7 separate regions of the Homo sapiens genome follow, and all the other regions are reported to be linked to region 2. Evidence: microRNA targets listed by miRTarBase, many of them from high-throughput screens and not tested one by one. Region 2 holds a microRNA gene; each other region holds the end of a gene's coding sequence.
The links. The annotated mature microRNA hsa-miR-6895-5p reads CAGGGCCAGGCACAGAGUAAG and lies in region 2 at 1,599-1,619, shown strand. An mRNA with a match to its seed (bases 2 to 7 or 8) in the 3' UTR can be bound and repressed. Matches are read on the target gene's strand: a 7mer-m8 pairs with bases 2 to 8, a 7mer-A1 pairs with bases 2 to 7 and ends in A, and an 8mer does both.

Region 1: the mRNA of TOMM40L is a reported target of hsa-miR-6895-5p. Seed matches in the 3' UTR shown: 8mer at 2,047-2,054.
Region 3: miRTarBase lists TFCP2L1 as a target of hsa-miR-6895-5p. The part of its 3' UTR that is shown has no 7-base or 8-base seed match.
Region 4: miRTarBase lists PHYHIP as a target of hsa-miR-6895-5p. Seed matches in the 3' UTR shown: 7mer-m8 at 2,123-2,129.
Region 5: miRTarBase lists TNFAIP8L2 as a target of hsa-miR-6895-5p. Seed matches in the 3' UTR shown: 7mer-m8 at 3,242-3,248.
Region 6: the mRNA of B4GALT2 is a reported target of hsa-miR-6895-5p. Seed matches in the 3' UTR shown: 7mer-m8 at 489-495.
Region 7: miRTarBase lists TTYH3 as a target of hsa-miR-6895-5p. Seed matches in the 3' UTR shown: 7mer-m8 at 1,425-1,431.

What each region holds. Positions count from the first base shown.
Region 1 is chr1:161,228,354-161,232,353 of GRCh38, forward strand. It overlaps TOMM40L (translocase of outer mitochondrial membrane 40 like), which reads left to right. Exons shown (of 10, transcript NM_032174.6): 8 at 75-151; 9 at 362-464; 10 at 603-2,393. The coding sequence ends at 742. NR1I3 (nuclear receptor subfamily 1 group I member 3) reads right to left here. Exons shown (of 9, transcript NM_005122.5): 6 at 2,976-3,121; 7 at 2,764-2,880; 8 at 2,460-2,565; 9 at 1,316-1,573. The coding sequence ends at 1,444. Among named protein-coding and RNA genes, the nearest start is that of MIR5187, 3.2 kb to the left of the region's middle.
Region 2 is chrX:53,193,009-53,197,081 of GRCh38, reverse strand. MIR6895 (microRNA 6895) reads left to right here and starts at 1,594; the gene lies at 1,594-1,671. It overlaps KDM5C (lysine demethylase 5C), which reads left to right. Exons shown (of 26, transcript NM_004187.5): 19 at 38-396; 20 at 1,028-1,166; 21 at 1,672-1,851; 22 at 2,014-2,151; 23 at 2,344-2,943; 24 at 3,231-3,309; 25 at 3,446-3,645; 26 at 3,750-4,073.
Region 3 is chr2:121,221,058-121,225,130 of GRCh38, reverse strand. It overlaps TFCP2L1 (transcription factor CP2 like 1), which reads left to right. Exons shown (of 15, transcript NM_014553.3): 15 at 744-4,073. The coding sequence ends at 790. Among named protein-coding and RNA genes, the nearest start is that of TFCP2L1, 62 kb to the left of the region's middle.
Region 4 is chr8:22,217,856-22,221,928 of GRCh38, reverse strand. PHYHIP (phytanoyl-CoA 2-hydroxylase interacting protein) reads left to right here. Exons shown (of 5, transcript NM_014759.5): 5 at 42-2,226. The coding sequence ends at 576. Among named protein-coding and RNA genes, the nearest start is that of PHYHIP, 12 kb to the left of the region's middle. RefSeq lists an enhancer at 1,215-1,915.
Region 5 is chr1:151,158,812-151,162,884 of GRCh38, reverse strand. TNFAIP8L2 (TNF alpha induced protein 8 like 2) reads right to left here. Exons shown (of 2, transcript NM_024575.5): 2 at 3,136-4,073. The coding sequence ends at 3,633. The region is part of intron 1 of TNFAIP8L2-SCNM1 (TNFAIP8L2-SCNM1 readthrough); the gene reads right to left. LYSMD1 (LysM domain containing 1) reads left to right here. Exons shown (of 3, transcript NM_212551.5): 2 at 785-1,149; 3 at 1,865-3,137. The coding sequence ends at 2,003. Among named protein-coding and RNA genes, the nearest start is that of TNFAIP8L2-SCNM1, 4.2 kb to the right of the region's middle.
Region 6 is chr1:43,990,163-43,994,235 of GRCh38, forward strand. B4GALT2 (beta-1,4-galactosyltransferase 2) reads left to right here. Exons shown (of 7, transcript NM_003780.5): 7 at 136-1,006. The coding sequence ends at 286. CCDC24 (coiled-coil domain containing 24) reads left to right here and starts at 1,437. Exons shown (of 9, transcript NM_152499.4): 1 at 1,437-1,584; 2 at 1,685-1,842; 3 at 2,050-2,225; 4 at 2,361-2,477; 5 at 3,725-3,802. The coding sequence starts at 1,717. RefSeq lists silencers at 1,591-1,700, 1,841-1,890.
Region 7 is chr7:2,661,463-2,665,535 of GRCh38, reverse strand. It overlaps TTYH3 (tweety family member 3), which reads right to left. Exons shown (of 14, transcript NM_025250.3): 14 at 734-3,868. The coding sequence ends at 3,797. Among named protein-coding and RNA genes, the nearest start is that of AMZ1, 25 kb to the left of the region's middle. RefSeq lists an enhancer at 367-661.

The DNA of each region.
Region 1 (4,000 bases), not on the chromosome of region 2:
GACTTTTCTGGGGTTCCTGGCCTGTGTCATACTACAGTTAACACTCCTTCCCCTCTGTACTTTGGATTTTACAGCTGTACACTGGGTAGCTACATTGAATGTGGGATCAGGCGGGGCCCATGCAAGTTACTACCACAGGGCAAATGAACAGGTGAGACCTCTGATCTCATTCCCTCCTTGTCAGCAAGTCAGTCATGAACTTCTGTTCATCTGGACCTCTATCGCCCTGCTGACCTATTTTTCTTCCTACCACGCTGTGTATATATTTACATGCATGCCTCCATTCTGCTGATTCCCCATCAGGACCCTTCTGGTCTTCACTGATACTGATCTCTCTCTCATCCTTGCCCATGGTTCTCAGGTTCAGGTTGGAGTGGAGTTTGAGGCAAACACAAGGCTACAAGACACAACATTCTCCTTTGGTTACCACCTGACTCTGCCCCAGGCCAACATGGTATTTAGAGGTGAGGGTTATTGGGAGACATTTGGCTATCCTGAGGAATGGGGGATGCAGAGGAGGGAGGGAAGCTCGACCTTACTTCTGGTGACTATTTCCTCCAATCCCTGTTAAATAATCTAGTGGGTATTCTCTCCCCCAACAGGCTTGGTGGATAGTAACTGGTGTGTAGGTGCTGTGCTGGAGAAGAAGATGCCCCCTCTGCCTGTCACCCTAGCCCTTGGAGCCTTCCTCAATCACTGGCGCAACAGATTCCATTGTGGCTTCAGCATCACTGTGGGCTGAGGTTGTCCAGAGCCAGCCCCCACAGCAGCTGGAACCTCTGAGTCAGGTGCCCTAGGGCCAAAGACTAGGCCCCTCTTCAGAGCCCACCTTGCTGGGTGATCTCTAGGACCCAGGAGCAGAGTGGTGGACAGGACCATGCCCTCCTCAGAACTGGAGCTGCCACAGGGGCAGTTGATGAGGCAGAGGTTTGAGGATCCCCCCTCTGCTACCAGCCCCAGTATCACCTTCCCCATGCTCTTGTGGCTGTGGACTAAGGGAGAAGGATTAAGGGGTATGGCTGAATTCCCCCGGCACCCCTTGCCCTCAGGCTTCCTTCTTCCTTTCCCTTTGGTTAATCCTGCATGGGATTAGCTGACCATCCTGTTTTCCATCCCAGAGCCTCCCAAGGCTGGGAAAGTAGGGCTGAAGGGCTAGATGTTTGGTCTCAGGAAGTGGGGCCCACCCATTCCCAGAAGGAGCTTCTTTACCTCTTAGCCCTGAGGTTTCCTCCTTCCCATCTTCTGTGCTTCCAGAGAACAACTTTGTTCCTATGGTCACCCCCACTATCCCCATGACCGCATGAAGAGGCAGTTATTGCTTTAGTCTTTCATTGCAACCACTGGGCTCCCTTTGAACCCGGCCCAATCTTTGGTCCCAGCATTTTCCCACTCCAGTGTATCCAGGGTGTTCCAGGTGAGCTGGGGAAGGAAGTGAGCATGGCCTCAGCTGCAGATCTCCTGGAGCAGCGGCATCATGGCAGACAGGCCCTGGATGTGCTGGATTTGGTACCCGTAGGCCTCATTAATGCTCCGGAGCTCAGCCAGCAGGCCTAGCAACTTCGCATACAGAAACCTTTGGAGGAAGTAGTGGGGTTGCCAGGAAAACAGGAGGGAAATAAGGCAGTTGGGAGTCTTGTCTCTAGGCCCTGATCCCCTGAACTATTCCTCAGTGAAGCCAGGTCTGAACATTAGAGAAAATCATGCTCTGGTATGACAGACTATCAGAGGTTCCAAAGGTCCTCCAGGGGGCCTCGGTCTGACACTGTCTTCTCTCACCATGCTCAGTTTTTTCTGAACCCAGAGCTCTGAGAGCCGAGTGTGAAGAAAGCTCCAGACTTGGCCAGAACTCCAACCATGTGGAATCTGAGGGCCTGGCCTTCTAGAGCAGGTTCTAGAAGGTGGATGTGTTCTATGGTATAAAGCATCCCCTTTCTGGCCAAACTAGCTCTTGGAGGAACGAGCAAAACAGAAGCGGTGCATACCTCAGAGCCTGGATAAATCACAGACTATTGAACCTGGAACTGGCTTTGACCATGAAACTGTGAATGGCCCTAACTTCAAGGGAAATGAGAAATCGAAGGAATTGGCCCAATGGCGAGGAGAGGAAAGGCCAAGGGAAGAGAAAAGTCTGCGTTAGTCTGGAGAAGTTGGACTAGTGAGGTAATGGATGTCATCAATCTCAGGAATGCTATTACCCAGAGCCTCTGAGCTACTACTTTGCATCTGTACTGAATAAAAAAAAAATCTGGAAAAAGTGAGATGAAACAGCAGTATCCAAATACAGCAATTTGGATGCTGAAACGATGTGAGACAGGGATGGCCAGGGGGAAGGACTAGACCCCACGATACCTGAATTCCCTAAGGAAAGGACAGTAAAAAAACATTCCTCCCAAGCTCAATGTTTCACCAACCCCTTCCTGCCCTGGTGTGGCCTCCAAGCCCTCAGTGTCCCACCGTACCGATCCCGGGGCCTTCGCTGCTGGCCCTTGATGTAGCTTTGCAGAGTCAGTGCCATCTCCTCTTGCAGCTGATCAATCTCATCTCTCTGGGTAACTCCAGGTCGGTCTGTAAGATAGGGAGCTGGGAAGGACAAGTTGGGTGGCAGGGGTGGGCCTGCGTGGTGCCCCGGGGACTGAGGCTGGGATAGACCTAGTCTGCAGGTTTGATAGCTAGGCTAGAAGGCCTGGGTGGATGGACTCAAGGAGCTGAGTATTTGGGCAGAGGTGGTGCAGCAAAAGGCTCTGGGCTTTGGGAGGTGCTCACCAGGAGAGAAGAGGGCCATGGCAGCCAAGAGCACATACTCAGGCTCTTGGAGCTGCAGTTTTCGTAGTGTTCCATGGAAGTGAAAGAGCAACTCCAAAAACTCTACCTGGAACCCCACTGTGGGAGATACTAGGATTAGGAGCCTCTAGGTCACCTGACCACATCCTGTACCATGAGGACACATGCCCCCTATTGCTCTAGCACCATCTCACCACGGGCTCCATCTTCAATTGTGTAGCGAAGAGGCCCGCAGAGGAAGTTTTGTGTTTGGAGACAGAAAGTGGTATTGAGTACGATGTGACAGATTTCCACAGCTGCTCCCTTGAGAAGGGAGATCTGGTCTTCAATGGGCAGGGAACTGTGGAAAGCAGGAAACAAGGACACTTTTCAATTTTTTTTTTTCTGAGACAGAGTCTCACTGTCACCCTGGCTGGAGTGCAGTGGCGTGATCTCTGCTCACTGTAACCTCTGCCTCCTGGGTTCAAGCAATTCTCCTGCCTCAGCCTCCCAAGTAGCTTGGATTACAGGCGTGTGCCACCATGCCTGGCTGATTTTTTGTATTTTTAGTAGAGACGGGTTTTCACCATGTTGGCCAGGCTGGTCTCCAACTACTGACCTCAGGTGATCCACCTGCCTTGACCTCTCAAAGTGCTGGGATTACAGGCATGAGCCACTGCACCCGGCCCACTTTTTAATTTTTTGTTTGTTTATATGTTTTTATTTTTTGTAAAGATGGAGTCTTACTATGTTGCCCAGGGTGGTCTCGAACTCCTAGGCTCAAGCAGTCCTCCTGCCTTGGCCTTCCAAAGTGCTGGGATTATAGGTGTGAGCCACTGTGCCCAGCCGACAAGGGCACCTTATTATTATTCTTATTAATTAATTTATTTTTGAGACAGAGTGTTGCTCTGTCACCCAGGCTGGATGTAGTGGCCTGATCTCGGCTACAGCAAACCTCCGCCTCCTGGGTTCAAGTGATTCTTCTGCCTCAGCCTCCTGAGAAGCTGGGATTATAGGCGCCCACCACCACACCCAGCTAAGTTTTGTATTTTTAGTAGAGACGGATTTCACCATGTTGGCCAGGCTGGTCTCAAATTCCTGAGCTCAAGTGATCCACCCACCTTGGCCTCTCAAAGTGCTGGGATTACAGGCATGAGCCACCGTGCCTGGCCTATTATTATTATTTTTAGCTTTCATTTTTTGAGACAGAGTCTCACTCTGTCACCCAGGCTGGAATGCA
Region 2 (4,073 bases):
AGCTGAGGAGTTTGTTCTTCATCCTGTGTCCTGGTAGGGTGTTCTGGAACAGGTGGAGGCCTACCAGGCTGAGGCTCGTGAGGCCCTGGCCTCACTGCCCTCCAGTCCAGGGCTACTGCAGTCCCTGTTGGAGAGGGGGCGGCAGCTGGGGGTGGAGGTGCCTGAGGCCCAGCAGCTCCAGCGGCAGGTGGAACAGGCGCGATGGCTGGATGAGGTGAAACGCACACTGGCCCCCTCAGCCCGAAGGGGCACCTTGGCTGTCATGCGAGGACTGTTGGTCGCGGGTGCCAGTGTAGCCCCTAGCCCTGCTGTGGATAAAGCCCAGGCCGAGCTGCAGGAACTGCTGACCATTGCTGAACGCTGGGAGGAGAAAGCCCACCTCTGCCTGGAGGCCAGGTAGGTCCAGCTGCTGCTTCCCTTCCCTGCCCTATTCCAAACATCAAAGTTGAGTGGAGACCCAGAAGAGGATGCCCATGGGTGGCCTTAGGTATCACGCTCCTGTGTTACTGTATTGACTCTCCCCTCTTTTGTTGTCTATCTTGTCGTTTTTTTAAAAAACAACTCTGTATACTTAAAGGCAAAGAGAGGCTGATGGAGAAGCAGAAATGGACAGATAGAGATTATCTAGAAGACTAGCCCTACAGGCTAATGTGCGCATACCCAGAAGCACAAGTGACAGGCAGATGGGCAGATGTTGGTAGAAAGACCCCACACAGGGCAGTTGACAAACTGCAGCAACAGATTACACAATACAGGTTGTATATGTAGGCATTGCTAGCAGGCCAGCAGACTGGCAGACAAACAGAGGTGCAAGAGCTGTGGCAGAAGGGATGAAGTTGGGTGCATGCAGTCTTGGGGAAGCAGGGACTGGCAGCTACCCTTAGGTGGAATACAAGCAAGTAGGCCCAAGTGACAGCAGGAATAACAGACACCCAAGGGGCCCATGCAGATATATCTGGTGGTCAGGCTGGGCTTCTGGTCAGGCAGACCACATCAGACTGAGCGTTCTTTTTTTCCTTACCTTTAGGCAGAAGCATCCACCAGCCACACTTGAGGCCATAATCCGTGAAGCGGAAAACATCCCTGTTCACCTGCCCAACATCCAGGCTCTCAAGGAGGCTCTTGCTAAGGCCCGGGCCTGGATTGCTGATGTTGATGAGATCCAAGTGAGGACCCTGCCACTCCCACCCCAGGCCTTCAGTCCAGCTGGGAAGAGATGGCATATACACTGGGATGTGCTGGGTTGCTGGGATGGGTTGGGTTGGCTGGAGAGAGGAAGGGGGCATGGCATGTAGTCAGGAGGCAAGATGTGCCTGATGAGCAGGGTGAGAGGAAGAGTGTGAGGCTGGCCTGAAGGAAGAGAGGGCACTGGTTAGGATGAGATTGGTGGGCCAGGGAAGCAGGTGGTATGGGACTGAGCAGGGCAGGGGCATGGAGGAGAGGAGAAGAGGCAAACCACAACAGAAGGCTGACTAGATATTTGGGGCTGAGCCAGTCAGTAGATGCCGGTGTTGTGGGAGAGAGCCAAGTGGTTGTTCCTTAGGATGACACCTATTTTTTTAATCCCTCAAGACTGAGCCCAGTTCATCTTTCCAGCTCAGGGCCAGGCACAGAGTAAGCATCAATAGCATTGGCAAGTTGAACTGAGCTGTCTCTCGCCCTTGGCCTTAGAATGGTGACCACTACCCCTGCCTGGATGACTTGGAGGGCCTAGTAGCTGTGGGCCGGGACCTACCTGTGGGGCTGGAGGAGCTGAGACAGCTAGAGCTACAGGTACTGACAGCGCACTCCTGGAGGGAGAAGGCCTCCAAGACCTTCCTCAAGAAAAATTCTTGCTACACGCTGCTGGAGGTGAGGCCTGGGACCTTGACCTACAGCGTCTCTTAACGCCTGCCCTGGCTTCTGTGAGATGGCTCATGAGATAACATGGGTTTTGTAGGGGCACCAGGGAGGGAAGGAGGCGGGGGATGTAAGGGAAGCCCAGTCATTCCCTCTCTTGTCTGCCTGCCCCAGGTTCTCTGCCCATGTGCAGATGCCGGCTCAGACAGCACCAAGCGCAGCCGGTGGATGGAGAAGGAGCTGGGGTTGTACAAATCTGACACAGAGCTGCTGGGGCTGTCTGCGCAGGACCTCAGGGACCCAGGCTCTGTGGTAAGGAGCTTCGACACAGATGGGGAGAAGGGCTTGGTGATGATAGAGTGTCTGAGCTGGGTGGCCATGAGCAGACCGCTTGTCCCCTGAGCCTCAGTTCTCCTGGTTTGGGAGTGGGGGTGTTAAGGGGGGGCCCAGAGAAGGGAAGGGGTAGGCTGCTGACCCACTTTGCTCCTGTCCTGGGTATGGCAGATCGTGGCCTTCAAGGAGGGGGAACAGAAGGAGAAGGAGGGTATCCTGCAGCTGCGTCGCACCAATTCGGCCAAGCCCAGTCCACTGGCATCATCGAGCACGGCCTCCTCTACAACCTCTATCTGTGTGTGTGGGCAGGTGCTGGCTGGGGCGGGAGCTCTGCAGTGTGACCTGTGTCAGGACTGGTTCCATGGGCGGTGTGTGTCAGTGCCTCGCCTCCTCAGCTCTCCGAGGCCCAATCCCACCTCATCCCCACTGCTGGCCTGGTGGGAATGGGACACCAAATTCCTGTGTCCACTGTGTATGCGCTCAAGGCGCCCGCGCCTGGAGACCATCCTGGCACTGCTGGTAGCCCTGCAGAGACTGCCTGTGCGGCTGCCCGAGGGCGAGGCCCTGCAGTGCCTCACAGAGAGGGCCATCAGCTGGCAAGGCCGCGCCAGGCAGGCTCTGGCCTCTGAAGATGTGACTGCTCTTTTGGGACGGCTGGCTGAGCTCCGCCAACGGCTACAGGCTGAACCTAGACCTGAGGAGCCTCCTAACTACCCTGCAGCCCCTGCTTCTGACCCCCTCAGAGAGGGCAGTGGCAAGGATATGCCTAAGGTGAGCTACTCAGCCCAGCTCTTGTCCTCAGATTCTTGTCTCCTAGCCCCTACCCCAGTTTAGGCTCGGCCCTGCCCCTTGTTCTCCAATTTTCAGTTTTCTTTGGACCAGCCTTCCTACTCCATTCTGCATCTGTCCAGATTCCTAGACTCTGCTCCCTGCTGGCAGCCTGTGTCTTCCCTCCTCCTCCAGAAGGCGGAGGGTCTCAAGTTTGGGGTTGGCGGAGGAGGAATAGGGCCTGGTTCTTCACTTCAGTTGCCCCTACCTATTCTTGCTCTCCTCCGCAGGTCCAGGGCTTACTGGAGAATGGAGACAGTGTGACCAGTCCTGAGAAGGTAGCCCCGGAGGAGGGCTCAGGTAAGAGAGGTAGGTCTAGGTGTGGTGTGGGTAGGCTGTTGACTGCACATCACCATAGTGACCCATGTAGTCCTCAGCTCTGTTGTAGTGGTGGGGATAAGACCAAGGGCAGCCTCTAATGCCGCTTGTTCCTGCAACCTCCTAGATCTGGAGCTGCTGTCCTCGCTGTTGCCACAGTTGACTGGCCCTGTGTTGGAACTGCCTGAGGCAACCCGGGCCCCCTTGGAGGAGCTCATGATGGAGGGGGACCTGCTCGAGGTGACCCTGGATGAGAACCACAGCATATGGCAGCTGCTGCAGGCTGGACAGCCCCCAGACCTGGAGAGGATCCGCACACTTCTGGAGGTGAGGAGAGGGGTCATGGGCCGGGCCAGGAGGTCAGGCCGAGTAGGGAGCCCAGGCCTGACCACTGGCCCACAACCTGTCTTTCTGCCTGTCTGTAATCACAGCTGGAGAAGGCAGAGCGTCACGGGAGTCGGGCTCGGGGCCGGGCCCTGGAGAGGCGGCGGCGGCGGAAGGTGGATCGGGGTGGGGAGGGCGATGACCCAGCCCGAGAGGAGCTAGAGCCAAAGAGGGTACGGAGCTCAGGGCCAGAGGCTGAGGAGGTCCAGGAGGAGGAAGAGCTGGAGGAGGAGACTGGGGGTGAGGGCCCCCCTGCACCCATCCCCACCACTGGCAGCCCCAGCACCCAGGAGAACCAGAATGGCTTGGAACCGGCGGAAGGGACCACTTCAGGCCCCTCGGCCCCTTTCTCCACTCTGACTCCCCGGCTG
Region 3 (4,073 bases), not on the chromosome of region 2:
TGTGGCCTTCCTAAGGGTTGGGGTGCATGTATAGGATATGTCAGAACAAAAGCCCTCTGACCGACTCATAGACCCTGGACCATGATGAGGCCACTTCCCACCTTGTCCCGTGGATCTAGCCACCGAGTGTCTTTTTTTTTTTTTTTTTGATGGAGTCTTGCTCTGTCACCCAGGCTGGAGGGCAATGGCGCGATCTCAGCTCACTGCAAGCTCCGCCTCCCGGGTTCACACCATTCTCCTGCCTCAGCCTCCCGAGTAGCTGGGACTACAGGCGCCCGCCACCAGGCCCGGCTAATTTTTTTGTATTTTTTTAGTAGAGACGGGGTTTCACTGTGTTAGCCAGGATGGTCTTGATCTCCTGACCTCGAGATCCGCCTGCCTTGGCCTCCCAAAGTGCTGGGATTACAGGCGTGAGCCACCACGCCCAGCCACCACCAAGTGTCTTTGGGGCCTTGGGGGCCATAATATCCCTGAGAACCACAGTTGTCCAAATCCTCCTTGGAACGTAGGTTTTCATCCTTGGGCCTGGGGCTATGGTAGAAAGACCTATTGTTAAAAAGACACTAAACGAGGCAGATGTCAGGGCATGTGAGATCCCTGCTTCTGCCAGCACGCTTTGCTGTATGCAGCCCTATTTTGGTGGTCTTTGCTGATACCCTAACAGCGTGCCTTTTGGGACTCCCCAATACTGTGGCACTGCACCTTTTTTCCTGTGAAATACACCCAGTGTTTCTCTCTTGCAGCTGAGAGCAATGATGGCTACCACATCATCCTGAAATGTGGACTCTGAGCAGCAGTGGACCTCATACCTGTCTCCAGCTCCCAGCCCTGTGGATCCCCGTGGATGTAGACATTGCCCCACTGTAAGCTGTGGCCTCACCAGGCAAGCTGAGGCCAGGAGGGACCCTGCCCAGTCTGTGAAAGCTACAGAGCACCAACCAGCAGAAGCCTGTGGACACCAAGTACGGTGTACAGAAAGCCAGTGGCTCCTTTCTCCCTTCCTCTTGGCCTCCAGATTTTGAATGGTTCCTTGTTCTTTTCTATTGGTCCAACCCTGACGTTCTAAAAGGGCAAACAGTGGAGACGTCTGCTCTGAAATCCCTCATCCCTTAGTTGGAAGCTGATTGGGTATCTTGGTGCTGCCTGTATTGGTCCCTTCTGACCACTCTCCTGCCTCCAGAGAAAGCTCTGCTTCACCCTGGAAGCTGGTACCTTTACCTCCTCCTCTGGGAGTTGGCTGCATGGCCAGCACTGCCGACTTGATGGGAGCAGTTTGCCCTCATTCTCCTGTTTCAGGTTTGCTTCCCTTCTCAGTGACCCTGGTGAGCATCCGCCTTTCCTGTTCTTGGATGAATTGATGGGAGTGGGGCTATTCTGTGCCTTCTACCTCTTTCTTCTCTACGTTGTTTCTAAGGATCTGCTGCTGCGGAACCCAAAGATGTGCTCCTGTCTCTGCACTGGCGCATTGGCATGGTAGATGCCACAATGTATGTGCACGGCCTTTCTCAGAGACATTAGTTCTGAGGCCCTTTGTGGGGAGGTTAGGGGGATGGTAATAGAAAAAGACTATTTTATTTCCTGGCAATCACGGGTAAGGAGGATTAGGAATGAGTATTCCATTCCTAGGTGTCATCAGATGACCTTGACCACCACAATACCAGGCCCTCTTGGATGGACTTATAGAAAGTTAGAGAAGACCTTGTTGAACCGCTGCTAAACTTGCCACAGGAGCGATGTGTTTTCTCTGAGTGCCCCTCACTTACATGTTTATCTTTGTTTGTAGAGGCTATGTTTAGGATATTTTGCCTGCATCAGAATGGGTGCATCATCTTTCTTAATGGCCTAACTATCGGGAAATTTGAGTGTCAGTAACTGTGGTAGACTCAGAAATTCGTCTTTGTCTTGCCTCTGGTTCCTGGGATCCAGTGATCTCTACTGGCCCAGGGCTTCAGCTCTTGGTTAATTTAGGTTCATGGGGAACCCTCTGACCACCTGAATGGGATGTCATAGCTTCTAAATGGAGCTTCTGTGGAATGAAGTGCTAGACTGAAGGACTACCAGAATAAAACAGGGTCTACAATGGGGAGAACTTGTTTTATAGATGAGGAAACCAAGGCTCAGAGGGGCAAAGTCACCTGCATGGTAGCACATAGTGATAGGGTAGCGATATAAATTTATCATATAAACCAGGACATCTCGGAATAAAAGGGGCTCTGTTAGTCATTATGTTGGGTAATAGCCGTGGCATTCCTACAGAACAGAGTGAGGACAGGCTCCTGATTCCTCTTCCTTCTTTAGAGGAGAAGCGGGGAGTGGGTTAACTAACAGCTTTATTGAGATGTCATTCACATGCCATTCAGTTTACCCATTGCTAGTGTCCAATTGTATTCACAGAACCACCATCAATTCACAGAATTACAGTCAACGTTGGTACATTTTCATCACCCCCAGTAAAACCCCGTACCCTTGGTCTGTCACTCCTGCTTTCCTAACTCCTGCAGTCCAAGGCAGCCATGAATCTACTTTCTATGTAAGATTAACCTACTCTGGACATTTCATATATCTGGAATCATGTGATATCTCTTTTGTGACTGGCTTCTTCCACTGAATGTTTTCTAGGGCCGTCCAAGTTGAGGATGTATCAGTACTTCATTCTTTTGTATTGCTGAATAATACTTCATTGTATAGATAGACCACATTTGTTTATTGATTCATCAGTTGATGGACATTTGTGTGTTTTTACTTTTTGGCTACTCTGAATGATGCTGCTATGAACATATTTCTACAAGATTTTGTGTGGACATATGTTTTCATTTCTTTTAGCAATATACATAGGAGTGGAATTGCTAGGTCTTACAGTAACTCCGTGTTTTAACTTTTTGAGAAACTGCCAGACTGTTTTCTATAGCAGCTGTACCATTTTACATTCCCACCAGCAATGTATCCAGGTTTCAATTTGTCTACATCCTCATCAACACTTGCTATTATCTGTCTTTTTGCTTTTAGCATCCTAATGAGTATGAAATGCTATCTTGTGGTTTTGATTTGCATTCCCCTGATGGCAACTGATGCTGAGTGTCTTTTCCTGTGCTTACGGGCCATGCGTATTTCTTTGGAGAAAGGTCTATCCAGGTCCTTTGCCTATTTTTAATTGAGTTGTCTTTTTTTTTTTAAGTTTTCTGTTTTCCTAACCACTAGACTACCAGGGATGAGCCTTCTTTTTATTATTGAGTTGGGTGAGCTATTTGTATATTCTAGACGCCAGTCTTTTATCAGGTATATGACTGGTAAAAATGTTCTCCCCTTCTGTGGATTGTTTTCAGTTTCTTGTTGGTGTCCTTTGAGACACAAAACTTTTTAACTTTGATGATTTCCAAGATACGTATTTTTTTTCTATTGTCACTTGTGCTTTTGGTGCCATATCTAGAAAACCATTGCCTAATCCAAGGTCAAGAAGATTAATGCCTGTGTTTTCTTCTAAGAACTATACTTTTAGTTCTCACAATGGTCTTTGATCCATTTCGAGTATATTTTTATATATGATGTGATGTAGGGGTCCAGCTTCATTCTTTTGCTTGTGGATCTCCACTTGTCCCACTGCTGATTATTGAGAAAAATATCCTTTCTCCACGGAATTGTCTTGGCATCCTTGCTAAAGGCCTCTGCTTCTTACTGGATCTTCTTTCCTGGGACATGGTGTCGTTGGGAAGCTTACCTTTTTTTTTTTTTTACTTAGTCTGTGTTTGGTTCCACCAGTTTTATGCTGCCTTTCTACTCTGTTCTTGCTGTCTCCCTCTTTACCTGAGTCAACGGTACTGAGTCCTATCTCTCTCTGATGTTCCCCAGTCTTCCTTGGTGCATGTTCTAGCTCCACACACTAGTCCTTGGAGGAAGGTTGAGACCAATGATTTCCTGTTATGAGTCATGAGGAAACTGAATCACCTAGAAGTGGAATAATGTGCTCAGGGTCACCATAGCCCATTAGTGGAAGGACCAGGACTAGACCTTTAGTCTTCTGAGGTCCAGCCCCTTAGGCTGTCTGTCATCACTGTACCCAAGTGATGTCACTACCA
Region 4 (4,073 bases), not on the chromosome of region 2:
CATCTTCTCTTCCCTTTGGTGTGTCTCCCTGGGGTGGGCAGGACCCACTGCGGGAACATGCTGCAGCCTTACCTGAAGGACAACAGTGGCAGCCACGGCTCCCCCACCAGCGGTATGCTCCACGGGGTCTTCTTCAGCTGCAACACGGAGTTCAACACGGGCCAGCCCCCGCAGGACTCCCCCTACGGCCGCTGGCGCTTCCAGATCCCAGCTCAGCGCCTCTTCAATCCCAGCACCAACCTCTACTTTGCGGACTTCTACTGCATGTACACGGCCTACCACTACGCCATCCTGGTGCTGGCGCCCAAAGGCTCCCTGGGGGACCGCTTCTGCCGCGACCGCCTGCCCCTCCTGGACATTGCTTGCAACAAGTTCCTGACCTGCAGCGTGGAGGATGGGGAGCTGGTCTTCCGCCACGCCCAGGACCTCATCCTGGAGATCATCTACACTGAGCCCGTCGACCTGTCCCTGGGCACCCTGGGGGAGATCAGTGGGCACCAGCTCATGAGTCTGTCTACTGCCGATGCCAAGAAGGACCCCAGCTGCAAGACCTGCAACATCAGCGTGGGCCGCTAGGGACTCCTGGGGAGCTGGGGGGCGAGGGAGAGATGAGCGGAAGGTGGAGGTGGGTAGCCCAGGTTCAGGGAGCTGGCTTTCTCTCTCCTGCCCCCCTGCTCCCTCCACTCTGCCCAGCTGCCCTCCCCTCGCCCCTTGGCATTGGAGGCAACAGACGGTGGTCCTCTTGGTAAGTGTGGCCCACACCCAGCCTGGTGGACATGGAAAGGCTTCTCAGCCTCTGTAGTTGGCAGCTGGGCTGGACTTCTGGAGAACTTCCCCTTTCCTCTGGTTTCCTTGTCCTACTGTTCTTTGCCTCGTCCAGGTCTCTATCTCCCAAAGACCTGCCCACCTCCTGGGCTCTCCCAGGGAAGCCCCTCTGGGCCAAAGCCCATGGGTAGCTTGGCTGCCTCCAGAAGAGATGCAGAGAGCTGTGGGGCGATCTTTCTTAGTCCCACTCACCCCACTCAGGGCCAACCACAGAATGCCCCCTCCCTGCTGAGCTGGGTCTCTGGGGCTTCCCACTCCAGGCCTGGATCCCTTCCTTCTATAAATAGTCTCCTGCACCACCGTGACTCCCTGGCTGCTCCTTGCCCCAAAGAACCCTCTTCCTGCATGGGAGAGCTGTCCCTCCTTCTCCACCTGCCCACCGGGACACTCCCCCTGCTCTCTAGAAAGGAACTCTCTTTCTTCTCTTGGCACTGGGGGCGTCAGGCTGTCGGATGTTCCTTCCTTCCATACCCCAGCATACCTTCTCCTTGCTTAGAGTGCAGGGGTCTGAGACAGCAGCCACTGGGGTTGAGGAGGGGGAGGAGACCCCTGAGACCCAGAGGTGCCCCTTCCTCAGCTGGGAGTGGGCCGCCTCATGCTCTGCTGGGGCCTGGCATGGAACGTGAGACCTGTAAGCTGTCCCGCGGGCCCCGGCACCCCGCCCAGCTGTGCACTTTGCTCACTCGCTCTGCCATGGTGCCATGACTGTACTGTGCCCATGCGTGACCTGGACTGTGGACCCTCTGCTGCTCCGCCTCTCCCCTCCCCACTGGCTCTGTCTGCTCTCCTGCCACCCTGCTGGCCGGGAGCCCCTCCCCGGGGAGTTCTTGGTGAAGTCCTTCCCGGGCCTCCTTGTGTTTTTGCCTCATTCCTACTGTCACACAGGTCACGAGGGTGGACTCCCTACAATCAACAAAGCAAACAGAGAGCCTGTGGGAGGGGCTGACAGCAGCAGCCGGCTGTTTGGGGGATGATGGAGGTGACATCAGGCAGAGGAGAGTGCAGCCTCACAGTGACTTTCTCAGAGGTGACAGAGATGATGGATGAGCAGCTGGATTTTCGTGATGAAGGACGGAAGCAGCAGCGGGCCGGCAAGGCCATACCTCGGTGAGGGACAGGTGGACAACGGTCACCTATCTGTAGCCAGGGGCAGTTGTGTGGCCAGCTGTCTCTCTGGGATGAGTCAGGAGGCCTGGAGGCTTGGGGAGAGGTGTGGAGAAGGAGAGAACATGGCCCAGGCCCTTTCCTTCCCCCTGTGCTGACAGCATTGCTGTGGGGGTGGCCCACTGCCCTCCCCTGGCCCTCATGTCCCCCCGGGGCTGGGGTCCGCCTGCCTGTGCTGTGCTTGCGACGTGCATCAATAAACCACCATGGCCTGAGGGCCCTGCTCGTCTCAGTCCATTTGAGCTGCTGTAACAAAATACCACACATTGGGTGGCTCAGAAACCGCAGATTCATTTCTCATAGATCAAGGTGCTGGCAGAAGCGGTGTCTGGTGAGGGCCTGCTTCACAGATGGCTCTTTTCACTGTGTCCTCACAGGGTGAAAGGGACTAGCAAGCTCTCTTGCCCCTCCTTTTTTTTTTTTGTAGACATGGGGAATTTCACCTTGTTGCCCAGGCTGGCCTCAAACTCCTGGCCTCAAGTGATCCTCCCACCTGCTTGGCCTCCCAAGGTGCTTGGGATTACAGGCATGAGCCACTGCTCTGGGCCATCTTGGGCCCCTTTCATAAAGGCACTAATCCCATTCATGTGGCCCCACCCTCATGACCTCATCGCCTTCCAAGGCCCTGCTTCCTAAAACTATCACCTTGGGGTTAGAATTTCCACCTAGAGCTGGGTGAGGTGGCTCACGCCTGTAATCCCAGCATTTTGGGAGGCTGAGGCAGGTGGATCAGTGGAGGTCAGGGGTTCAAGACCAGCCTGGCCAATATGGTGAAACCCTGTCTCTACTAAAAATACAAAATTAGCTGGGCGTGGTGGTGCATGCCTGTAATCCTAGCTACTGAGGAGCCTGAGGCAGGAGAATTGCTTGAACCTAGGAGGCGGAGGTTGCAGCAAGCCGAGATTGCGCCATTGCACTCCAGCCTGGGTTACAGAGTGAGACTCCATCTCAAAAAAAAAAAAAAAAAAAAAAAAAAAAAGTCAACCTAGGATTTAGGGGGGACACAAACATTCAGACCATAGCACCCCATCCCTTTGGGCCAGTGATGGTATGGGTGAGTTCTGCAAACCACAGAGGAGCTCAGGTGGGAATGCCCCCAGGACAGGCGACCTGAAATCAGCTCCAAGGGAGCACCTCGTCCATTGTGGGAGGCGGGGCTCAGGATGTAGAGCTGAGTCTCCAGCTTGGAAGGGACTTTGGAGTCTTTTGGTCCCACCCAGTGTTTCCCATATGGGGCCTCCCACATGGGGCGTCCTAGGAGAGGACTCACAGCATCTGGAGGCCCCGTTTGGAGCTTTTGAAGCCTTCCTACTACAGCAGCTTGCCATTGCTCCAGACCCAGATGCCACCAAATGTCCCTGTCCCAAGTGCCTGAGTGTCCCCGCTCCCCAACACAGCTCCCGTTTATAGATCCCAGTCACCTCTGCATCTATCATTTTATTATTATCATTATCATTATTATTTTTGAGATGGAGCCTCGCTCTGTCACCCAGGCTGGAGTGCAGTGGCACGATCTTGGCTCAGTGTAACTTCCACCTCCCAGGTTCAAGCAATTCTCCAGCCTCAGCCTCCCACGTAGCTGGGACTACAGGTACATGCCACCATGCCTGGATAATTTTTGTATTTTTAATAGAGATGAGCTTTCACCATGTTGGCCAGGCTGGTCTCGAACCCCTGACCTCAAGTGATCCACCCACCTCAGCCTCCCAAAGTGCTGGGATTACAGGCATGAGCGAGCCACTGTGCCTGGCCATTATTTTTATTTCTTGAGACAGGGTCTTCCTCTGTTGTCCAGACTGGAGTGCAGTGGCACGATCATGGTTCACTGCAGCCTCAACCTCTGGGGCCCAAGTGATCCTCCCACCTCAGCCTCCAGAGTAGTTGGGACCACAGGCGTACACCACCATGCCCAGCTAGGTTTTTTAACATTTTTTATTTTGTAGAGATGGAGTTTCCCTGTGTTGCCCAGGCTGGTCTCAAACTCCTGGGCTTAAGTGATCCTCCTGCCTCCCAAAGTGCTGGGATTACAGGCTTGAGTCACTGCACCTGGCCTGCATCTATTGTTATGGACTTATTGATATGGT
Region 5 (4,073 bases), not on the chromosome of region 2:
AGCGAGGAAGGCCAGTTAAACTGTTGCAATAACCCCAGATGAGAAATACTGAGGGTCTATTTTAAATCTTTGGCAGTAGGAAGGTGAGACCAGATGTGAGAGAGATTTTTGAAGCAGTTTTGTTGACCACTTGGTATGGTGATGAAAGGCAAGTATTAGTTAAGGATGACATTGATGTTTCTACCTTGGGAGGCCAGGCAGATAGATGGTGATGCCAGTCACTATGTCCAGTGATGAATAAATAGGTCAAAATAAATATTTATTAATGACATTGTTAATAGTATAGTGTGAAAAGCATTCTCAGAAGCAGTGAAAAGACCCAGGATTGTCATTCTAGCTCTGTCATTAACTTGATAGATAATTTTAGGAAAGTAGCTTAACCTCTCTGAGCCTCAGTTCCTTCATTTTTATTTATTCATTAATTTATTTATTCATTTATTTTTAATTTTTTAATTTTTAGAAATGGCGTCTCACTATATTACTCAGGCTGGACTCTAATTCCCGGGCTCAAGCTATCCTCCCTCCTCAGCCTCCTGAGTAGCTGGAATTATAGGCATCAGACATTGCGCCTGGCTTGCACAATAATTTTTTAAAATGTAAGGGGGCCCTAAGACCAAAAAGTGTGAAAACCACTCATCTATAGAATAGAAATAATGTCAGCCCTTTGTACTTTAGCTTGGTTGTTATGGAATCAAAGAAGACTCTGTACAGTCACTTTAAAAAGCTCAAGATGTAAGATTGATCATTATTACTGTCCTTAATTTTGGTGACTTTTTTTTTTAAGATGGAACAGATTAAACGTGCAAACCGCCTTTATACTAATGACTCCATCTTCCTGAAGAAAACCCTCTACATCCCCATCCTGACAGAGCCCAGAGACCTGTTCAATGGTTTGGACTCTGAGGAAGAGAAAGATGGAGAGGAAAAAGTACACCCAAGTAACAGTGAAGTTTGGCCACACTCAACTGAGAGGAAGAAACAAGAGACAGGAGCAGGACGTGCCAATGGTGAAGTCCTCCCCACACCTGGCCAGGAAACCCCCACGCCCATCCATGACCTCTCTGCCTCTGATTTCCTTAAGAAGCTTGATTCACAGATCAGCCTGTCCAAGAAGGCTGCTGCTCAGAAGCTGAAAAAAGGGGAAAATGGGTGAGTCTTGAATGGTTCCTTATAAGTTCCTCCCTAGACTCCTCCATCATTCCTGTCTTACCTAACCACAAACACAAGTAAGTAAGGACAGTGCCAACAGAGGCAAGGTGATACCTTTCCCCCATGTGGCCCCAAGATAATGAGCAGAGGTGATGGCTGCTGGCCTGGGTAGAGGCAGTGGAAAACTGGGTTCTGTGTTCTTATTGGAGTCAGACAGTTAACTATTTTTTTTTTTTTTTGAGACGGGGTCTTGCTCTGTTGCCCAGGCTGGAGTGCAGTGGCGCGATCTTGGCTCACTGCAAGCTCCGCCTCCCAGGTTCACGCCATTCTCCTGCCTCAGCCTCCCGAGTAGCTGGGACTACAGGCGCCCGCCACCACGCCCGGCTAATATTTTGTATTTTTAGTAGAGGCGGGGTTTCACCATGTTAGCCAGGATGATCTCAATCTCCTGACCTCGTGATCCGCCAGCCTCGGCCTCCCAAAGTGCTGGAATTACAGGCGTGAGCCACAGCGGCCAGCTGACAGTTAACTGTTTTTACTGCTCTGATCATCCATGAAGGAGCATTAGGGTTAGGATTTATCTAGAGGGTACTGAGACTGTCTTGAAGCAACCAGCTTATGTATTAGAAGATAGCTTTCCATGTACCTCTCACTTGGCCCATTGTCAGGTTCTTCCCTTGATCTGTCACTCTTTCCCCCCTTTCCTCAATTGCAGGGTACCTGGGGAGGATGCAGGTCTCCACCTGAGCTCCCCTTGGATGCAGCAACGAGCAGTCCTAGGTCCTGTGCCGCTGACCCGTACCTCTCGGACCCGGACACTACGGGACCAGGAGGATGAAATCTTCAAACTCTGATGTCCCCAGAACTGACTGAGAGAAGCAAGATGTTGAAAGAGAAACTTCAGGGGGAGAGGAGCCTGAGGTGAGGCTCAAGAACATGGCTTATGAGCCTGCCTCCCTCCACTCCAGCCATCCTCCCCAGCCTCCTTGTCTGCCAAAAATTCCTTGGCCTGGGGCAGTTTTATTGGCAAGATTAGGGAATGGGAACTGGACCTTTCCCAGTTCTTGGGCTGAATCTAGAGTTGAGTCCTTTAGACTCAAAAGGCTCTTTTTATATCCTTGTTGCCTTTCCTATCCTTTTTACCTTTCCCTGGCCTTAGAACAGGGAAGCAGAGACTCCCCCTCAGCTTCTTCCTCATCTCCAACTATGTGACATAATTTATTTGGTGCTAATATTGAAGTAATATTTATTTGCTATATTTTATTTCTTCCCACTCTTAGCTGAAAAATGGAATTTCTATAGCCCTGGGGTGAGGAGAACCCGGGAACAGTGAGCCAGTGACTGCTGGTTCTCCACTTTCCCCACCTTGTTAGCCAAACATGTTATTGAGGATGAGGCAATCGGTGATATAGCCCACCACAGAGAATGGATGACTGTTGGCCTTTTCTCCAATCTCAAAGTGACAGATTTGGGCTGATTCTTTTTTTTTTTTTTTTTGGTACCCCATTCCTGTTGAATGGGCTCAGTCTTGACAAACCAATTCCCTGTAACTTTTTCACAATTCTTGACTCTGAGAAAAAGCAGCACTGTAGGGACCTGAACTCTCCATTCTACCAGTTCACCCTTCTGACCTGTTCTGCTCAGCCTGTGGTGAGGGGAACAGATGGAAGAAGGCTTTCCTTGGGGTTTGAAGAGGAAGCCAGTTGTGGGAGTCTCTTTGTTACACCCCCTCCCCTCCAGACCCTCTCTCTCTATGCCTTCCTCCTCACTGCATATTTATTTGCGATTTGTAGCACTGATCTATGGTACAGTTGTTTTGTTTCTTAAACAGAAGTAGGTAAGGGAACCTCAGTAATAATGGAAATCTGCCTCAGTCTCCTGTTTGGAAATGATGAGAGGTGAGATAAGTAATGTTTATATACCTCCTTTCTTCTGTGATGATTATAAGGTATACGAAGCTGGACAGATTAAACATTGAGCCCTGTGCATATTTTAGTAGTTTTATTTCCCCTATGAGAATCTCCCCTGCCCTAGCCCCTTCTTCCTGCACTCTGGAACAGAGCCTCTGGCATCTGTCCAAGCTCTGTCTCTAAGGGCCACCTTCCCCTCTTCTGTCTTTAGTATCCCCAAAGGGGTTCTCTGGGCTGTGCCTCCTTTCCTTGGTTCACATGGGAGGGGGCTTCCCTGTTTCAGAAGTCCCTTATGGGAGAAATAGAGATCCAAGTTTCACTTCACCTTTTTCAGGCAGTTCTGTTTCCTGTCCTGGGGCTGGAGTGGGAGAGAGGCCTCACCCCTCAGCATTGCTCCTTCTCCACTAGCTGTTTGGGGGTGGGCTGGTCTCAGAGTCAAAAGCACTCTTGGGAAGGAATGAAGCCTGAAGATTGAAAAGTGTTAGTGCCAGGTGAGCAGGGTTAGGAAGCCCATTATCTGTGTTTTCTCAGTCAACCATTTTGTCAAGGTGGAATGTGCTAGGCTCAGGGCTCTCAGAGCTTCCCTTCGTCTAGCAGCTTCCTGAGTCCGTCACAGATCTTGCCAAGGTGCTGAGTGAAGTCAGGCCCATAGAGGGCCGTGAGCAGACCTGGGTCAGAGAAGTGATCAAACACGTGGCGGATGCGGCCATGTGACTTGGGCGTGAGGTGGTGTTCCACCAACTCTAGCAGCACATCCCGGCACTCGGTCAGCAGGCCAGCCAGAACAGCAGCCTCGAAGGTGAAGTCTACCTCACCAAAGCTAAGTGCCGTCATGGCACCCTGCCGCAGCTTCTGGCGAAAGCGGGTAGCCAGGGCCAGCTCACTGGGGCCAAAGGAGCCATTGCGGTGCAGCACAGCCACCTTGATGGCCACTTTGATCAGGTCCTTGATCACGCGCTGGGCCTGGGGCCGGCTGTGCGTGTACTCCTTGGACACACGGTAGAGCTCATCTAG
Region 6 (4,073 bases), not on the chromosome of region 2:
TGGAAACCCTGTTTTTAAGGTTCCCTGGGGTCCCCTTGGCCAAAAGGGGGTCCATTTAGTTGGTTGGGGGGTGTAGGATTTTATTTTTAGTTTACAGTTGTTAGCCCTGATGTGGACCATTTCCATCCTATCTAGGTTTACCAAGATTCAAAACACGAAGCTGACCATGAAGCGGGACGGCATTGGGTCAGTGCGGTACCAGGTCTTGGAGGTGTCTCGGCAACCACTCTTCACCAATATCACAGTGGACATTGGGCGGCCTCCGTCGTGGCCCCCTCGGGGCTGACACTAATGGACAGAGGCTCTCGGTGCCGAAGATTGCCTGCCAGAGGACTGACCACAGCCTGGCTGGCAGCTGCTCTGTGGAGGACCTCCAGGACTGAGACTGGGCTCTGTTTTCCAAGGGTCTTCACTAGGCCCCCTAGCTACACCTGGAAGTTTCAGAACCCACTTTGGGGGGCCTCCTGCCTGGGCAGGCTCTTCAAGTGTGGCCCTCTTTGGAGTCAACCCTCCTTCCCGACCCCCTCCCCCTAGCCCAGCCCCAGTCACTGTCAGGGTCGGGCCAGCCCCTGCACTGCCTCGCAGAGTGGCCTGGGCTAGGTCACTCCACCTCTCTGTGCCTCAGTTTCCCCCCCTTGAGTCCCCTAGGGCCTGGAAGGGTGGGAGGTATGTCTAGGGGGCAGTGTCTCTTCCAGGGGGAATTCTCAGCTCTTGGGAACCCCCTTGCTCCCAGGGGAGGGGAAACCTTTTTCATTCAACATTGTAGGGGGCAAGCTTTGGTGCGCCCCCTGCTGAGGAGCAGCCCCAGGAGGGGACCAGAGGGGATGCTGTGTCGCTGCCTGGGATCTTGGGGTTGGCCTTTGCATGGGAGGCAGGTGGGGCTTGGATCAGTAAGTCTGGTTCCCGCCTCCCTGTCTGAGAGAGGAGGCAGGAGCCCCAGGGCCGGCTTGTGTTTGTACATTGCACAGAAACTTGTGTGGGTGCTTTAGTAAAAAACGTGAATGGAGCAGCTCCCTTGTCTGTTTGGGGGTGGGGGTCGGGTCCCTGAACGTGGTTACCCTGAGTGTGTTGTGGTGGAAGGGCACTTGGGGAACCTGGCCCAACAAGTAAACCTGACCCGGGCCATCCTGGTTCTCCAAGCGCTGCCACTCCCTAGGCTTTCACTGGCCTTAAGGGGAAGTTTGTCCTTGCACTGCTTCCGGGACAGTGGAGGCGACGAAGTAATAAACCCGTGGACCCAGATTTCTCAGGTCTTAACACGTTCCCTGAGGCCTAAAGGTGCCCAGGGCCGAGCCCAAAGTGCTTGGGTCAGGGCTCGGTGGAGCGCCGAGGTGAGTCTGAACTCCCAGCCGGCACGCGCCGCCCGCCGGACCAAACACGGGAGGGGGCGGGGCCCTAGAGTCGCGGCGTGGTTTCCCGGGTGATGGCCACGCGGAAGAGGTGGGGCTAGGGCCCTGGTTCCCACTGCCTGGTTTCTGGGCCCCCGGCATCCGAGTCGGCCAAAAGCCGGGCAGAAGAGAGCGCCAAGGACTGGCAGTTCCGGAACGGGCAATCCCAGCCGAGGGGACCAGCGGCAGAGCACGGGTGGGGCTTGGGAGAGGGCGGGGCCCATAGAGGGGCGGGGTTTGGTGAGCGTTGCCGGCGGGCCCGCGGTACCTCCCGCACTCTGACCTGCGGCCCGTAGGTCCGAGCCGGGGACGGCGGCGTCGGTGGGTCATGCTCCGGCACTCCCCCTCGCTGTGGGAGCTGGTGGAGGAGCACGTTCCGCTCCGGGAGCGACGCGAAGTGAAGAGGATTCTGGGGGAGGCGGCGGTGGACCTGAGCCTGGAGCTGCGGGCGGAGGTGGGGAGAGGGAAGGTGGGCCACGCCCCTGGCCTGCCCCACGACTCGGGTGATTTCCCACCTCTGCGGGTCCCTGGCCCTGCCGGGTAACTCCCGAGATCCTATCCTGGTCTCCCCTTTGACTCCGCCCTCTCCCTCACTCCCCCAGCCCCCACCATTCCGGACACTCCCCTCCCCAGTCGCAAGGTATCCCAGCTCTCCTTGCAGGTGGCGATGTTACGGGCACTGCTCCAAGAGGCTCGATCCTCTCAAGCCCCCAGCTCCCGCCCCATCTCTGACCCCTCTTCTCTTCTGGCACCACCGCCTCTCCTAAAGGACCTCTTGCGCCAGGAGCTCCGGCAGTTGCTCCAGGGTCTCCGCCACAAAGCCATCTGTGAGGGCAGGTGGGAGCCTCAGGCCTGGGCCCTTTCCCTAGATACCAGGTGGGCTAGCGCTGCCCCTAACAAGGAGCCAGGGTTGCCTTTTCTGTGGTTTCCAGAAAGGAGCCTCTCAGCTTCCTTCCTGTGCACCTTCTGCAGGGACCAGGCCCAAGCTTGGGTCCAGTATAGCCCCAGGGTCCTGCACTTTGCCTTGGAGGAGCCCAGGTGTGATTTGCCAGAACAGGAGATATTCCAGATGAGAGGTGGTGGGCCCAGGTAAGGTGATGGTAGGAGAGAGGGATCTGTCCCTGCTTGGCAGAGGGCCCTAGCCCACTGGTGGGTTGCACCTGGCTCCATGCAGGAGATTCCAGTCACGGGCTGGGCACTTCCACCGCCACTTGTGATAGAGATTATCAGCCCATGAGGGCTACTGAAACCCAGAGGAAACACCTGCCTAGCCTGGGGACAGGCAAAGCTTCCTGGAGAAAGTGGTTTGATCTGCGTGTTGTAGTATGAGGAGCAGTTTTCAGGGAGATGAAAGAGAAGAGCTTTGTAGGAAGAGGGAAGAAAGGAAGCCATGTCCAGCAGGCGGTTGTTCCTCTGGCCTAGAGAACAGGAGTGAGGGCTGGGCTAGGGAGGCAGGGAGAGCTGAAGAGGATGGTCACAAATGGTATTTACAGCTGGGACTGAATGAGATAAAATATTCATAAGTGGATGGCAGCAACTTCTTATTCTAATCCTCACACAGCCTGAGGAGGTGGGCAAAATCTCCATTTTGCACAAGAGGAAATTAAAGGCCGGGCATAGTGGCTCATGCCTGTAATCCCAGCACTTTGGGAGGCTGAGGCGGGAGGATGGCTTGAGGCCAGGAGTTTGAGATCAGCCTGGGCAATACAGGGAGACCCCATCTTTACAAAAAGTGAAAAAAAAAATAGTCAGGTGAGGTGGCGCATGCCTGTATTCCCAGCTACTTGGGAGGCTGAGGTGGGATAATTGCTTGAGCTCAGGAATTCGGGGCTGCAGTGAGCTATGATTGCACCTGTGCACTCCAACCTGGGTGACAAAGACCCTGTCTCTAAGAAAAAAAAAAAAGAAGCCTGGGCAACATAGTGAGACCCCATCTGTGCAAAAAAATTGAACAGGCGTGGTGGCACGCACCTGTAGTCCCAGCTACTCAGGAGGCTGATGTGGGAAGAGCACTTGAGCCCGGGATGTCAAGGCTGCAGTGAGCCAAGATGGTGCTACTGCACTCCAGCCTGGGCAACAGAGCACAATCTTGTCTCAAAAAAAAAAAAAAAAAAGGAAAAGAAACTAAAGCTCAGAAGCGATAAGTGATTTGCCTGAAGTCACACACAATGAAGGGTGGCAGAGCTCATTTGCAAACCTAGGCTCCCAAACTCTTACTCTTTGCACTATATTATATTGCCTTTGTGAGAAAAGAAACAGTTGCCTAGAAGTGATATTTGGGTCCTGAAGGCCTGGGGTGAGCAACATGCGGAGAGTGATAGTGACTTCATTGCCAGCAGCGGTCACAGAGATCTCAGCATCATCAAGGACCAACTGAACGTGTCCAACATTGACCAGGTGGCCAGACACCTGAGGTGAGGCCCAGGGGCACCTGCATGTGTATAGGCAGGGGTGGAGACAAGGATGGATCTTGAGGTGCTGGGATTGTGAGACAGGAGGTGGGTAGTATACTTGGCGGGGAGGCCCATGTGCGTAAGGCTGAGAGGTGGAAAGAGCTGGCTGCTATAGAGCTAGTGAGGTTGCTTTCAGGAAGCAGCCAAGTACAGATGCCACGGCCGAGCATGATGGTGCATGCCTATAATCCCAGCAATTTGGGAGGCCGAGGCAAGAGGGTCATTTGGGCCC
Region 7 (4,073 bases), not on the chromosome of region 2:
CGCCCACCCAGCGAGCGTGGCCCCGCCCACTCGCTCCGAGAGGCTCCTCCTACTCCATGCCCCGAGATCTCGTTCCCGGCGCCTCGCCCACCCATTTTTTTGTTTTTTTTTGAGATGGCGTCTCGCTCTGTCGCCCAGGCTGGAGTGCAGCGGCGTGATCTCAGCTCACTGCAAGCTCCGCCTCCCGGGTTCACGCCATTCTCCTGCCTCAGCCTCCCGAGTAGCTGGGACTACAGGCGCCCGCCACCACGCCCAGCTAATTTTTTGTATTTTTAGTAGAGATGGGGTTTCACTGTGTTAGCCAGGATGGTCTCGATCTCCTGACCTCGTGATCCGCCCACCTCGGCCTCCCAAAGTGCTGGGATTAAAGGCGTGAGCCACCGCGCCCGGCCTCGGCCACCCATTTTGCAAGGCCTTCGTCCACTCATTCCAGAAGCCCTGCCCACCCCAACCCTGGAAAGCCTTCCCCGGCGCCCCGCCCACCCCATCCCTGGAGAGCCTGTCCCCGGCGCCCCGCCCAGTCACTCCGAGGCCCCGCCCACCCCTGAAGACCCGCCCACAACCCCGAGAGGCCCCGCCCGCAACCACAAGAGGCCCCGCCCAGCCGACCCCTCGGAGCTGACCTGGTCGGCCCCACCCTCAGTGTCCCCCTGTTCCCCCAATGCCCCTGCCTGGAGCCGTGGACTCCCTACCAGCGCCCAGCCAGGAGCCAAAGCAGCTCAGGAAGAGAGGCTTGCTTTTTAAAATTTATTTTAAAACATGAAACCCAAGCTGAATAGAAACCACAGAAATTACATTGACGAGATTTTTAGTATTTGCCAAGAAAAAAAGCCCCCAAAGAAATAAAAATCAGCCCCCAAACCCAGTTCTAAAAAAACAAAAAAACACAGCGACAGTACATACAGCCATGGCCCTACAGAGGCTGGAGGAGGGGGAAATGCAAAATGGTTCAGGCCTCAGTTCCTGGATGTTAAATCACACTGGGGTGGGGGAGGTCAGATGCCCAGGCCGGGGGGGTAAACCAGGAGGCTGAGTCTTAAGGAGATTATATATATATATATTATATATAACAAATATGAAGTGGTTCAGTACACAACCATTATGGTTAAACACAAAACAAAGATCCCACAGGAGAGGCCCTGGTCCCCCGCCTGCCCCCTTGTCTGGGGTTCTGGGGTCCAGGGGGCTGCCTCACCACCCCTCTCAGGGCTGGGGCAGAGCTGGCCCCAGGGCAGGAGCAAATGTTGCTTGGAACTCGAATTGCATAGTGAGATGGGTGGGTGGGCAATGGGCCAGGGGCTGCTCCCAACCAGGCCCATTCACTACCAACCTTGCCATGACATGTGGGGGGCCCTGGGGTAGTGGATGCCTGCTGGGGAGCACTCTCAGTGAGGTAAGCCCCTGGGCTCCTCCCTCTTGTCCCCAGGGCCACCCTGTCCTCCCAACGAGGCTGTGGGCCTGGGGGCTGCAAGACCCCCTGTGCAGGGTGAGAGTGGGGGCTGGCCATGGCAGCAGGCACCAGCCAGATGCCCCAGTAGGTGTGGCGAGGTCATGGGATGGAGTAGTTAGGAACACGGCACCGAAAACTCAGAACAAAAATACAACCAATGGCAGGCGCTCCCCTCCACCTACTGAGGTGGGGTTTGAACCCCTTTTGATTTTCCCCGTTTCCTTTCTTCAACCTTGGTGAGTAGAAAGTCACAGACGGGCACACACGCACACCACGGTCAGGAGTCCCGAGACAGCACGAGGCTGGAAGCCCTGGCCTCACCGCCTCTCACGCTATGTCCATTCACCTGGCAGGCAGCCTCACGGCCATGGACAGCATTTGTGCTTCTGAGCGGTCGCAGGGCGTTTGGCGGGCACCCACGCCAGGGTGCCAGGGCCTCTCTCCTGGCCCTAGGCCTGGAGAACTCCCCTGGCGGGTCAAGCCCAGAGGAAAGACTGGGCAGGTTGGCTGTGGCGGGGCCTCCGAGGGGGGCTCAGAATGTCAGCCAGGCGGGGCCTGAAGCAGAGGCCCCTCCACTGAGGTTTGGTCATGCCTGGGGAGCTCAGACGCCCCGGCTTGGGGCCCCAGGCCCATGGACTCCCCTCCCCACTCTGCCCTCCCATATTCCCCCTTTTTGGTCCCAGACACCAGCACAAAGAAAGGAGGGGTTCACAGAGGAAGGCCAGGGCAGAGCCTGGCCCCAGGGAGGGGATGAGGACATTTCCGGTCCAGGTAGCTGCCGGCTGCTCTGGGAGGAAGAGCCATGCGTCTGTAAACTGCTGGGGCTGGCGGCCCGCCCCACTGCAGGGCCCAGCCTTGACCCCTGCACGTGGCCATCCAGCTGCCCTCTGGCTGCCCCTGGCCTTGGCACAGGCATCGAGCCTCGAGGGCTGGGCTGGCTGGGCCAGGGCCGGGACCGGGAGGGGTAGCACGTCCGATCCTGATGTGGGGTGGCTCTGCCCTCCACGGCGGGAAGCACAGCAAACATCGTACACTAAAGCCAAAAGCACCATTGGGGAGCCTCGCTCCCACTTCATGGGGAGGAGACCGAGGCCACAGGGACCTCAGTCCAAAGCCCGCGGGAGGTTCATTCCCGAGGACAGTCCTCCTGGGGCAGCACCTGCCTGGGGAGGGGTGTCCAGGCCCTTGGGCTGCCTGTCGGTCTGTGGCACCCCCTGGAGCACCCCATGAAGAAACGCTACTGCAGCCTTGACTCCCAGACAGCTGCTCCGGCCTCGGCTCCAGCCCGGACTTGGGCTCACACTGCCGGCTCTGGGCCAGCTAGGGGCACCCGTGGAGTTTGGGGGTGAGGTTAGTGGTTAGTCCCAAGGGGGGACAGCAGGGGCTGAGGGATGTTCACAGCCGGCTCGGGTCCAGCCCCTCAGGCCGGGCTCCTGGGATGCTGTACCTGTCATGGATGGAAATGGAACCAAGAAGGGAGGGAAGGGGGGTGCCAGCGGTCCCCCTCAGCCCGCAGCCCCAGCCTGCCCTAGAGATGACAAATGTGGTTAGTGCAAAGAACGAACCAGACACAGCTGCCCAGTCTCTGGGTGGGGGAAGGGGGTTTGGCACCAAGAAGGCGGCCAGCACTGGGTGGCGGGTGAGCGGCCCGGGCTCCACGTGGCCCCTGCTGTCCACGGAGGGCTGGGGCCTCCAGCAGGGCAGGTGCTGAGGGAGAGAGTGAAGCTGGGGCAACGGAGAGAGGCCCTGCTGGAGGGGGCCTCTGGCAGCCGGCAGGAGGGGTGAGCCTGTGGGTGGGCGGGCTGCACAGGCGAGGAGGGCACTGCAGAGAGATGGGCACGTGGAGGGACCACGGGGTGACCTCAGGGCAGAGATGAGCAGGTGGCACGTGTCCCTGTCCCTCAGTGGCCAGCAGGCGCCAGCACAGAGCGGCCCCAGCCGTGCCTGTGAACTAAGAAGGGGTCCACAGAAGTGCCGGGCGGGAGGAAGGAGAGCTGTGGAGGGAAGGGCCGGGCGGCAACAACACAGGTTGGGTGCGGCCAGGGCTTGTAGGTGCGGCGACCATCTGCAGAGGGAGCGTGCCGGGATAGTGGGTGGCGTGCAGGGCTGGGGCATCGGCTGGCAGCAGCGTTCAGGTGTGACCCGAGTTGGCGGTACGGGCCCAGAGCCCCTGCGTCTCCACTGTGCCCCTGCGGGGAGGGGACAGGAGGGCAAGCGGCCTGCAGACGCGTCTGGGGCAGGCCTGGCACGGCGTGCGAGGGTCCGGTGGGTGGCCCAGGTGGAAGCGGCAGTGCTGGCACGGGGAGGGGAAGTTGGCACGTGGGGTGGGTGGCTGCCGGGCGCGGTCTAGTGGCTGCCGCTGGAGTCAGGGCGAGGCTGGCTCGTGGCGAGGTATTTGGCTCTCATGCTGGAGGTGTACTGGAGGGAGACAAGGGGGAGGCATCAGCAGGGCCCCTGCATGGCGCACGCAGCCAGGGGCGCCTTCCGCGTGGTCCTCACTTGGCTGAGCCAACAGCCCTGGGGGCAGAATGGGACAGTACAGGGTGCCCTGACAGAGCCTATAGGGAGGGGCTAAGGAGGGGCCGCTGGCTGGGGGCCCCTGCGCTCTAGGTCTGGCTGAGGC